3 linked regions of the Homo sapiens genome follow. The protein of the gene in region 1 purifies or fractionates together with the protein of each later gene. This does not show direct contact. Each region holds a gene or a part of one and is shown in the gene's direction. Other genes may lie near its edges.

What was found.
Region 2: the proteins of CACHD1 (region 1) and SLC26A2 fractionate together in Homo sapiens (co-fractionation; one large-scale study listed by BioGRID). This does not show direct contact.
Region 3: the proteins of CACHD1 (region 1) and TMEM63C fractionate together in Homo sapiens (co-fractionation; one large-scale study listed by BioGRID). This does not show direct contact.

What each region holds. Positions count from the first base shown.
Region 1 is NC_000001.11:64,679,626-64,683,282, forward strand, and holds part of CACHD1 (VWFA and cache domain-containing protein 1 isoform 1 precursor), read left to right. Parts: coding exon 1-131; intron 132-1,632; coding exon 1,633-1,710; intron 1,711-2,379; coding exon 2,380-2,481; intron 2,482-3,657. UniProt on the Homo sapiens protein: May regulate voltage-dependent calcium channels.
Region 2 is NC_000005.10:149,967,129-149,970,785, forward strand, and holds part of SLC26A2 (sulfate transporter), read left to right. Parts: intron 1-3,657. UniProt on the Homo sapiens protein: Sulfate transporter which mediates sulfate uptake into chondrocytes in order to maintain adequate sulfation of proteoglycans which is needed for cartilage development.
Region 3 is NC_000014.9:77,254,641-77,257,396, forward strand, and holds part of TMEM63C (osmosensitive cation channel TMEM63C), read left to right. Parts: intron 1-1,885; coding exon 1,886-2,086; 3' UTR 2,087-2,756.

The sequences.
Region 1 (3,657 bases):
AAGCGCCCCTGTGGGTCCTGTGGCTGGAGGGATCATGGGATGCATCATGGTCTTGGTCCTGGCGGTGTATGCCTACCGCCACCAGATTCATCGCCGGAGCCATCAGCATATGTCTCCTCTTGCTGCCCAAGGTGAGCTCAAAATGAACCCCACAGGGGAGGCAGCAGCCAGGCTAGAAGGACAGTGGCGGGTTGTGTAAGCCTCTAAGGAACTGTCAGAACAGTGCTATACTTTCAGCTTCTGTGGAGTCATTTTGGAAGTTCCCAAAGCCTGCTTTCTTCTTCAGTGCCTAAACCCTACAAGCTCTATTTTGATCCCCGGAAAAATCCCTGGATCCTCTCCTTACCAGCATTAGCCCCCAGTGGCCTGCCTCTGCAATAAGCCAGTCAGGGGAGCTGGGATGCTGAGTGGGAAATTTTGTTTGTTAGATGTGCTGCCCTTGCAATTCCAAAAAGACAGGCAAATCAAAGATACCCCAGATCACTAATGGCAAGAATATAATCTGTTCGATTGCAGCTGCCATTATGTAGTGTGAATAAACACACATTTGAATAATCACATCTCTTAAAACAGGATAAGTCGGCCAATCGCGGTGGCTCATGCCTGTAATCCCAGCACTTTGGGAGGCCGAGGTGGGTGGATCATTTGAGGTCAGGAGTTCAAGACCAGCCTGGCCAACATGGTGAAACCCCGCCTCTACTAAAAATACAAAAACTAGCCGGTGCGGTGGCACCTACCCGTGGTCTGAGCTACTTGGGAGGCTGAGGCAGGAGAATCGCTTGAACCCAGGAGATGGAAGCTACAGTGAGCCAAGATCGCGCCATTGCATTCCATTCTGGGCGAAAGAGTGAGACTCCATCTGAAAAAAAAAAAAGTCATCGAAGCCAAGTACAAAATGATTCACCTATAATCATGGCCTCAATACCACGTGCAGTATCTATACTCTGTTTAAGTGCAGTATCTGTACTCTGTTTGCAGGGAACAAAACTGTTTAATGGCCATCTCCATCCTTCCTAAAACCCCAGTCCCCGGGGATGTGTTGACCTGACCTTTTTGGAGGTGAAGTTAACTCATCTTCCTGGCCACTTAGCTCACTCTAACAGCTGTAATGACAGGTTGATGTTAAAGCATTTCACTATGGCCACAAGCCTGAAGGGGAATCATGGAGTAATGTTACCTGATTTAGTAACAGGGATAATCACCATGTGCTTCCCTTGGTGAGATTCAGCTAGACTGAGGATGACCGTCATCCAGTGTTAGCTTATGCCTGGCCTTTTGGAGGCTTTTGTTGCACCATTTCACCAACACAGTCAGTCATTTTTCAATCCCTTTCCTTCTGTTTCAGTACTTTAGTAGAGGATTAAAGATTTGTTGGCCTCAATCAACTTCTTTTCTCCTCCTTTCTCAGAAATGAATTTCAGATGTCTCTTGATTACTTGTTCTTCTTGTTTGGATTCCTGCTCCCTCCTCCTTTAAAAAAACATGGGGCATCAGTTCATTCCCTTCTAAGATGGGATTCATTCTTGATGGAATGCTGTCACCCAGCCATCAAACAAGTGCTCAGCAGGGTATTAAAGCGGGTGATTTTGTTTGATTAAATAGTCATGTTTCTCTCTTTTTAATGATGGGTAGAAATGTCAGTGCGTATGTCCAACCTGGAGAATGACAGAGATGAAAGGGACGACGACAGCCACGAAGACAGAGGCATCAGTGAGTATTCAGCTGCCTTGCTGCAGAATGTGTCAGCAGGAGGCTAATCCAGAATAAATATTCTTTCTTATATCCTTTTGGCTTGTATTAAAATTTAAGAAGCTTTGACACGGTGGCTGGGTTTTTTTAGTTGTTTTTTTCCATCCTTTTTTGTTAGGAGTACGTGTAGGTCTTTGTTTTAGAGAATCTCAAAAGATTTTATTGTGTTTTTTTTTTTTTTTTTTTTTTTGCATTAAGTGTGTTGGCCTAAAACAGCTCACCCTTTCCTTTGTTTCTCTTGCTCATTATTTTCCAACCATAGTATTTTAGAAAAGGAAGTTTCAGGTATGCATTTTTTAAAAAATCCCTTAACTAGTATGTACAACTCAGGGAGGAAAAAAGAGCATTTTCTTTATCAAAAGAGATTTCCATTAGTGTTAAGACACCCTGGCCTTCAGCTACTAGACCATAGCTTCCTGATGCACGTTGGAGATATATAATTAAATACCTCTCACTGCACCAGTTCTAAAATCAGCACCCCAATCCCCAGAATTGTTTAAAAAATGATTTATTCTGGCTTTCCAAAGAGAATTCTCCCAGCATGTAAATGAGCCCTCTCAGAGCAAATGTGTTTGAAACAATGGAGATACTGGCATAAGAGTGACATTAACTGTCCTTGGCTTCCTACAGTCAGCAACACTCGGTTTATAGCTGCGGTCATCGAACGACATGCACACAGTCCAGAAAGAAGGCGCCGCTACTGGGGTCGATCAGGAACAGAAAGTGATCATGGTAAGGTCTAGCTTCCTGCATTTGAAGACCCAAGGAACCTCATGTACTCCTGTGGGATGATGCTCACACCCTATTTTGACATGGTTTTCCAAAAAGACACACCCCAGCATGCCACTGGTTTATAAGAGCCCGAGGACAGTTTTACTTATGTCTCAGCACTCCTCTGGGCACACAGATTGCTTTCAAGTTTTTCTCCATACAGAAGGATTCATATTGTTTAAATGGAGCCTGCTTGCCATCCCACTTGCTTTTCCATAAAATCAGCATCCTCTTAGGTCCCGCTCTCCAGTGTTGGCTGGCAAACAGCAGGATCTTTAAGGGCTTTTTCAGTCATGTCCCCTTGGGGCATGACAAGAATCTGTGCTGTCCTCCAGCATTCTCTTGCCCTGACCTCTGGCATGGTCTGGGGAGCTCAGAGAAGGCTTCACCAAAGAAGCAAGAAGCAACATTTGCACTGAGCCTTGAGGGGGTGATTAAAGAAAAGGTAGGGGCAAAGAATATTAGAGGCCAAAGGACCAGTGTTTACAAAGTCATGGAGTTGTGTAAGTGCCTGTAAGATGCTCAGGAAGGGTCAAGGCCAAATCATGAAGAGGCGCCGAGTGCTAGGTAACTTATGAAATCCACCTACTCTGCCAAAGACTTGGCCATCCCACATGGCTTCTCTCCTTCTCAGAGTCCATATCGCTCATTGTTGCAAAGAACAGCAGATGTATCCCAGTCTATAAGCATCACTGCCACAGTTCCACAAAAATATAACAGATGTGGGTAGTGTTTTTCCTGCCATTGTAAAATCTTTTTTTTTTTTTAAGATAGCTGTTTAATTTTCCAGAAATCTGTATTTTCCTCCTAGAATCAAGTCCTTTTTTAAATACATAAATAGTGTATTTAAGCCTTTTTGACTTAGCTTTTTCCACACCTATCCTGGAAAAAAAAAGTCCTCAAACCTTGTATTCCCTGTATCTACACTAAAAAATGCAAAAATAGATACTCCTCAGAGCAACCAACGTCACCATTTACACTACAGCCAGGTCTTCAAACTCCCTTTGGCAAATAAGAGCAGCTAAAGCTCTGTTTTATAAATTGGAGACTGTTAATTTGGGCTTTGAATGACATTATTCCCACCAACTAAATAGAAACTTCAGGTTTCTATGGAGAACCACAGCAGAACTTAAATTT
Region 2 (3,657 bases), on another chromosome or scaffold:
CTCCAGTCTGAGCAACAGAGTGAGACTGTGTCTCTTAAAGAAAAGAAAAAGAAAATTATGTAACAGGTTATATTCAAGCTACTCTTTTCCCCTTCAGATAAGAATTAGACTTTATAGCTTTATTGTAGTATAATTGACATACAATAAGCTGTACATATTTCAAAGGTACTCTCTCTATATATATACATAAAACTGTCACCACAATCAAGATAGTGAACATATCCATCAATCCCCAAAATCTCCTCATGCCCCTTTGTAATCTCTCTCTCCTACCCCACCTTACTTCCTATCCCGAAATAGCCACTGATTTACTTTCTGTCACTATAAATTAGTATAAACTTTTTTTCTTTCTTTCTTTTGGTGGAGGTGTCAGGAAATGAACTTGAGGACTGATTAGTTTGCATTTTGTAAAGTTTTTGTCCCTGAAATCTCCTTCATCTAATATTAATGTAGTGTACAATGCAGTGGCATGAAGTACGTGCACAATGGTGTGTAACCATTACTACTATTTATTTCCAAAACTTGAAATGGAAACTCTGTAACCAGTAACACCACTTCCCCCAGTACCCAGTAAACTCTATTTTCTTTCTCTATGTATATGCCTATTCTCTCTCTCTCTGTGTATATATATATTTTTGTTGTTGTTGTTGTTATTCTGTCACCTGGGCTAGAGTGCAGTGGCATGATCATAGCTCACTTCAACCTTGACCTCCTTGGCTCAAGCAATCCTCCCTCCTCAGCCTCCCAAAGTGCTGGGATTATAAGCATGAGCCACCCTGCCTGGCCCATTTTGCCTTTTCTAGATATTTTGTATAGGTAGAATCATACAATACTTGTCCTTTTGTGTCCTTTTTTTTTTTTTAGATCCAGCTCTTTTTTTTTATTTTTTATTTGTTTGCATCGTGTCTGTCTTTTGCTTAACATAAGGGTGTTAAGTTTCCTCCATGTTGTAGATGAAGAGTATCAGAACTTAATTCCTTTTTAATAGTCAAATAATATTCCATTTTATGGTTATACCATGCTTTATCTGTTCATCTGTTGATGGACACTTGGATTGTTTTCACCTTCTGGCTATTGTAAATAGTGCTGTTATGAACATTAGTATACAAATATCTGTTCGAGTTACAGTTTTTAGTCCTTTGAGTATAAGCGGAATTACTAGGTCATATAGCAGTGCTGTGTTTAACTTTTTGAGGAACCACCAAACTGTTTTTCACAGTGTTGGCACCATTTTACATTTCTACCAGCAATGTATCAAATGTATCAGCTGTTTTTTTTTAATTTTATTTATGTTATTTTTTAGACAGAGTCTCGCTCTGTCACTCAGGCTGGAGTGCAGTGGCGCAATCTTGGCTCACTGCAAGCTCCGCCTCCTGGGTTCACGCCATTCTCTTGCCTCAGCTGCCTGAGTAGCTAGGACTACAGGCGCCCGCCACCATGCCTGGCTAATTTTTTTTTTTTTTTTGTATTTTTAGTAGAGATGGGGTTTCACCATGTTAGCCAGGATGGTCTTGATCTCCTGACCTTGTGATCCGCCTGCCTCGGCCTCCCAAAGTGCTGGGATTACAGGCGTGAGCTACCGTGCCCGGCCTCAACTGTCTTTTTTTTGAGACGGACTCTCGGTCTGTTGCCGCAGCTGGGGTGCAGTGGCGCGATCTTGGTTCACTGCAACCTCCACCTCCTGGGTTCAAGTGATTCTTTGTGCCTCAGCTTGCTGAGTAGCTGTGCCTCAGCTTGCTGAGTTACAGCTGTGCAGGTGTACACCACCACACCCAGCTAATTTTTGTATTTTTGGTAGAGACAGGGTTTTGCCATGTTGCCCAGGCTGGTCTCGAACTCCTGACCTCAAGCGATTCACCCGCCTTGGCCTCCCAAAGTGCTGGGATTACACGTGTGAGCCACTGTGCCCGGCCTCAAATGTCTTTTAAAGAAACAAAAATTTTTGTCCAACAAAAGTCAAAGCTAATTCTTCTTGGAAAAGTTTTTGTTAAAATAACTTTTTAAAATAAAAACCATTCTGTCCATCAAAAACTTTATTAGATACTTCCTGTATGTGCCTAATTCTATGCTAGGTATTATGATAGTACACAAAAAGTGTAGAACATCTTGAATAATTTTAATCTAGTTAGGAAGATAAAGCACATATTCAACAAACGTTTATTGAACATATAAATGGAATTCAGCAGAGAATGAGGTACTGTAGACCTTTCACTCTGCCCCATTTATTTTTCCAATTTTGGCTTCTCTCCTGTACTTGAGAACCACATTTCTAATTGCCTGCTGGACACACCATCTGGACATATTATAAAAATCTCAAATCTAAAAAACCCAAAGTCAGATTTTTTGCTGCTTCCTATCTTTCCATTTTCTTCTCCATCTTCCTGTATATCATCCTTCCTTTTGTGTGATCCTTCTCAGATTTCATCTTAGATTTGTCTGTGTATGTCCTTTAAGCACCACCTCTTACCTAGTTGTACCACTGAAATGGCAAACCTCCTGCCCTTTCCTGCCTTGGAAGTTAGGCCTTTGGTAACTGTAGCTTAGAGGATGAACTCGTGACTTCTTGGAATTGCATAAAAACTAATCCTTCACTCCAGCCTTATCTCCTACAACTTCACCCTTGGAACCTAGTGTGACCTTTTCCTGGGTCTTGGACTATACTGTGATCTTTCACTTGCCTGAGTTACCTTTTCCCTTTCTATTAACGTTGCAGCTTCCTACTTCACGTTGGCCTGCAGTGTATTCTCCACTCTCAGAATACTCTAAACCTTTCTGTTATGGTACCTAGAATGCTGTTTAAAACTCTGTCTTAATCCACTGATTTTGGGTAGAAATTGGGTTATTACTCATTTTAGCAAGAATTTACTGAACCTCTACTGTATGTGCTAAGCATCGTTCTTGATAATGGAAATATAATAAGTACAAGAAAGACTGTAAATAATAGTTTTGCTTATAAGTAATATAATTTCAGAAGTCTGAAGTGCTATGAAGAAAATAAAGCCAGATAAGGATATAGGGAATGCTGGGAAGGAGGTGTTATTTTATTTGGTTGGGATGGTCAAGGAAGGTTTCTGTGAGGAGGTGACATATAAACTGAGGCCAGGCATGGTGGCTCACACCTGTAATCCCAGCACTTTGGGAGGCAGAAGTGGAAGAATTGATTGAGCCCAGGAGTTCGAGACCAGCCTGGGAAACATAGCAAGACCCTGTCTCTACAAAGAAATAAAAACAAATTAGCCAGGTATCGTGGTGTGTACCTGTAGTCCTAGCTACTTGGGAGGCTGAGGTGGGAGGATTGCTTGGGCCTAGGAGTTCAAGGCTGTAGTGAGCTATGACCATGCCACTGCACTCTAACCTGAGTGACAGAGTGAGATCCTGTCACTAAAAAAGAAAAATAAAAGCTGAGACCCAAAGGATGAGAACATACCTGTATAGATCTGGGAGATTATTATTCTAGGCAAAGACAACTTGAGCAAGTACAGTGACCCTAAGAATGGAATCAACTTGGCATGTTCCAGCAACTGCAAAAAAGCCAGTAGGAAATAAGGGCAAAAAGGGAGGCAGTGTTCAGATCTTGCAGGCTATTAGAGTATTCCAGGTGAGAGAGGATGGTAGGACAATAGTGAGAAGGGATTGGATTACAAATAGTTTGGGCAG
Region 3 (2,756 bases), on another chromosome or scaffold:
AAGTTCCGTCAATATAGAGTCCAGGGCACCAAGCAAGGGAGTGTCAGGACAAAGGTCGAACCAGGTCCATCTGACTCTAAAGCCTATGCTTTTAAAAAACACGACTAGGATTTATTTTTTAAATCTTGCCTTATTACCACAGGGCTATATGAACATCGCACATCATTATAGGGGGAAAGGATAAGCAGAAATAAGAAAATAAAAAGTCCATATTCCCACCACCCAGAGATGACCACTGATAGTGTATTTTCTTGCAGATATTTATATACTATGTATCTCTTCCAGATAATTATGTATGATTTACATAGTTTTGCTAAAATGAAATAGTACTGCACATACTGTTTTATAACCTTTTTTTGTGGGGTGGGGAAACAGAATCTTGCTCTGTTGTTCAGGCTGGAGTGAAGTGGCACCATCTTGGCTCACTGCAACCTCCATCTCCTGGGTTAAAGCAATTCTCCTGTCTCAGCCTCCCGAGTAGCTGGGATTACAGGCACATGCCATCACACCTGGCTAATTTTTGTATTTTTAGTACAGATGGGGTTTTACCATGTTGGCCAGGCTGGTCTCGAACTTCTGACCTCAGCTGATCCACCCGCCTCGGCCTCCCAAAGTGCTGGGATTACAGGCGTGAGCCACCACGCCAGGCCTATAACCTGCATTTTTAGTTAACAATCTTTTTCCATATATATAAATTTTTTATCTCTTTGAACACCCAGCCGGTATTCAAATTGCCTTAATTGTTCCAGAAGTATCTTTTAGAGCTTGTCCAACCCAATATCAAATCTAGCACATGTGCCTCAGGTTTTCATGTCCCTTTTATTTTAGCACAGTGCCTTTTAAATGACTTGGAGAGACCAAGCCAGCAGTCCTGCAGAATGTTCCACCTGGATTTTTCTGGCTGTTCATGATGTCTTATGACAGGTTCCATGATCTCCTGAATGCTGGAAGTTAGATCTGATGGCTTGATAGATGCAAGTTCAACATGGGGCTAGAACACATTACAGGTAGTGCTGCAATTTACACTCAGAGAGATGTAACATCCTGTTAATTCCCATTCATTAATGATGCCGTCATGACCTTCTAATTAGGGGAATGACAGGTGGATTTTTCCATGGTTCAGTTGACATTTACCCCTTTATGACCAAAAGGTCATCTAGATGGCTTACTTTGGCACCACGCAAATGTCTAGATTCTTTTGTAGGAAAACCGTTCCTTCAACCAGGGCTGTTTGGTTTCACTGAAATAAACTCCTATGGGAAAGGTTTCATTCCATTCCCTAATAACCTATTTTCTAAGTAAGGAGATGGTTTAAGAGCCACTTCAGAGGATGACAATTGCTCTTCTTCCTAGTACATCCTGTGTTTTTCTATCTGCTGCCGTCCCAGGCATGGGGACCATTCCTGGGTGTGACAGGTCATGTGACCAAAGTCTCCGCTAGCAGTTCCACATCTTGAGGACAGGCCAAACCAGTGACAGATCCCGAGGGAGTTCTGAATGTGCTGCTGAAGCTGTATTAGAAGGTGCACTAGCTCAGGAAAGAGGGTCTCTCCAGACCTCAGCTGAGGGGAGCCTCATGTCACCTCCCCTGGATGCAGCTTGACTTGGAACTGAGAGTGAATGGGACATGTTCTAAAGGAGCAGTGGACTAGGAGTGGGGAGTCCTGCCACTGAACCAGCCCTGGGAGCACCTAGATGCTCATCAAATGATCAAGAACAATTAGGTGGGTGGGACAGACAGGACCCAGGCTGCTGGGGAAGAAGGCAGGCTCCAAGGTCTGGAGGAGACAGAGGCGATGGGGGTGGGGCATGAGGGGAGAGGGTGTGCCCAGGGCCTTGCCCCCAACGTGACCTTGCTCCTGTCCCCTGTCTCTATCCCAAGCAGCTGTATGTGGCCACCGTGCTGCAAGAACCGGAGTTGAATCTGACCCCCGCCTCCTCCCCAGCCAGGCACACCTATGGCACCATGAACAACCAGCCGGAAGAGGGAGAAGAAGAGAGTGGTCTGAGGGGCTTTGCGAGGGAGCTAGACTCGGCCCAGTTCCAGGAAGGGCTGGAACTGGAGGGCCAGAACCAGTACCACTGACCGGGACCTGAGGCCTCCACTGGCGACTTGTTGAGGGGTCAGGGGAGGGCCTGGCAAGGGGAGGCAGGAGGGTGGCCTGGACCTCCCCACTACCTCCTGCAGACTTTGAGAAGCCCACAGTGGAGACATCCACCACCCCAGCCATGGGCCATACGGGGGTCCTGACCTGCTGCCCGGCTGGAACTGGGGGTGCTCGGCAGTGCTGAAGGAGCCTGGGAAGGGATGGGAGGATACAGGCAAGCACATGTCTTGAGAGAGGTGGCTGGAGCCCCGGCACAGAGACTGAACGCTGGGGTCCCTTCCTGGGACCAAGATGGAGAAGGTGTTCCTAAGGGAGGAGACAGAAGGAGGCTGCCGAAGGCTCTGTGGGGTCATCACCACTCTGCATCAGCTGCCCTTCCAAGGAGCTTCTGCTGCTGCTCCTCCTCCCAGCCCCGGCCCATTCCTCCCCTGCAGTCTGAGGAGGCAAAGGTATGTGCACGGGGCACATTGACAGGACACGGAGGACCACCTCATCACAGGGTTCCCTGCATGGGGATCTGTAAAGAGAAAGTTTCTGCACCCACCAGAGCAAGAGCCAACTGAAAGCGTAGACCTGAGAAGAGGTAACTCAGCCCCTTCCTGCTCCTCTGCCCTCATCAGATGTCCCCAGGAGCAGCAGGGCAGAGGC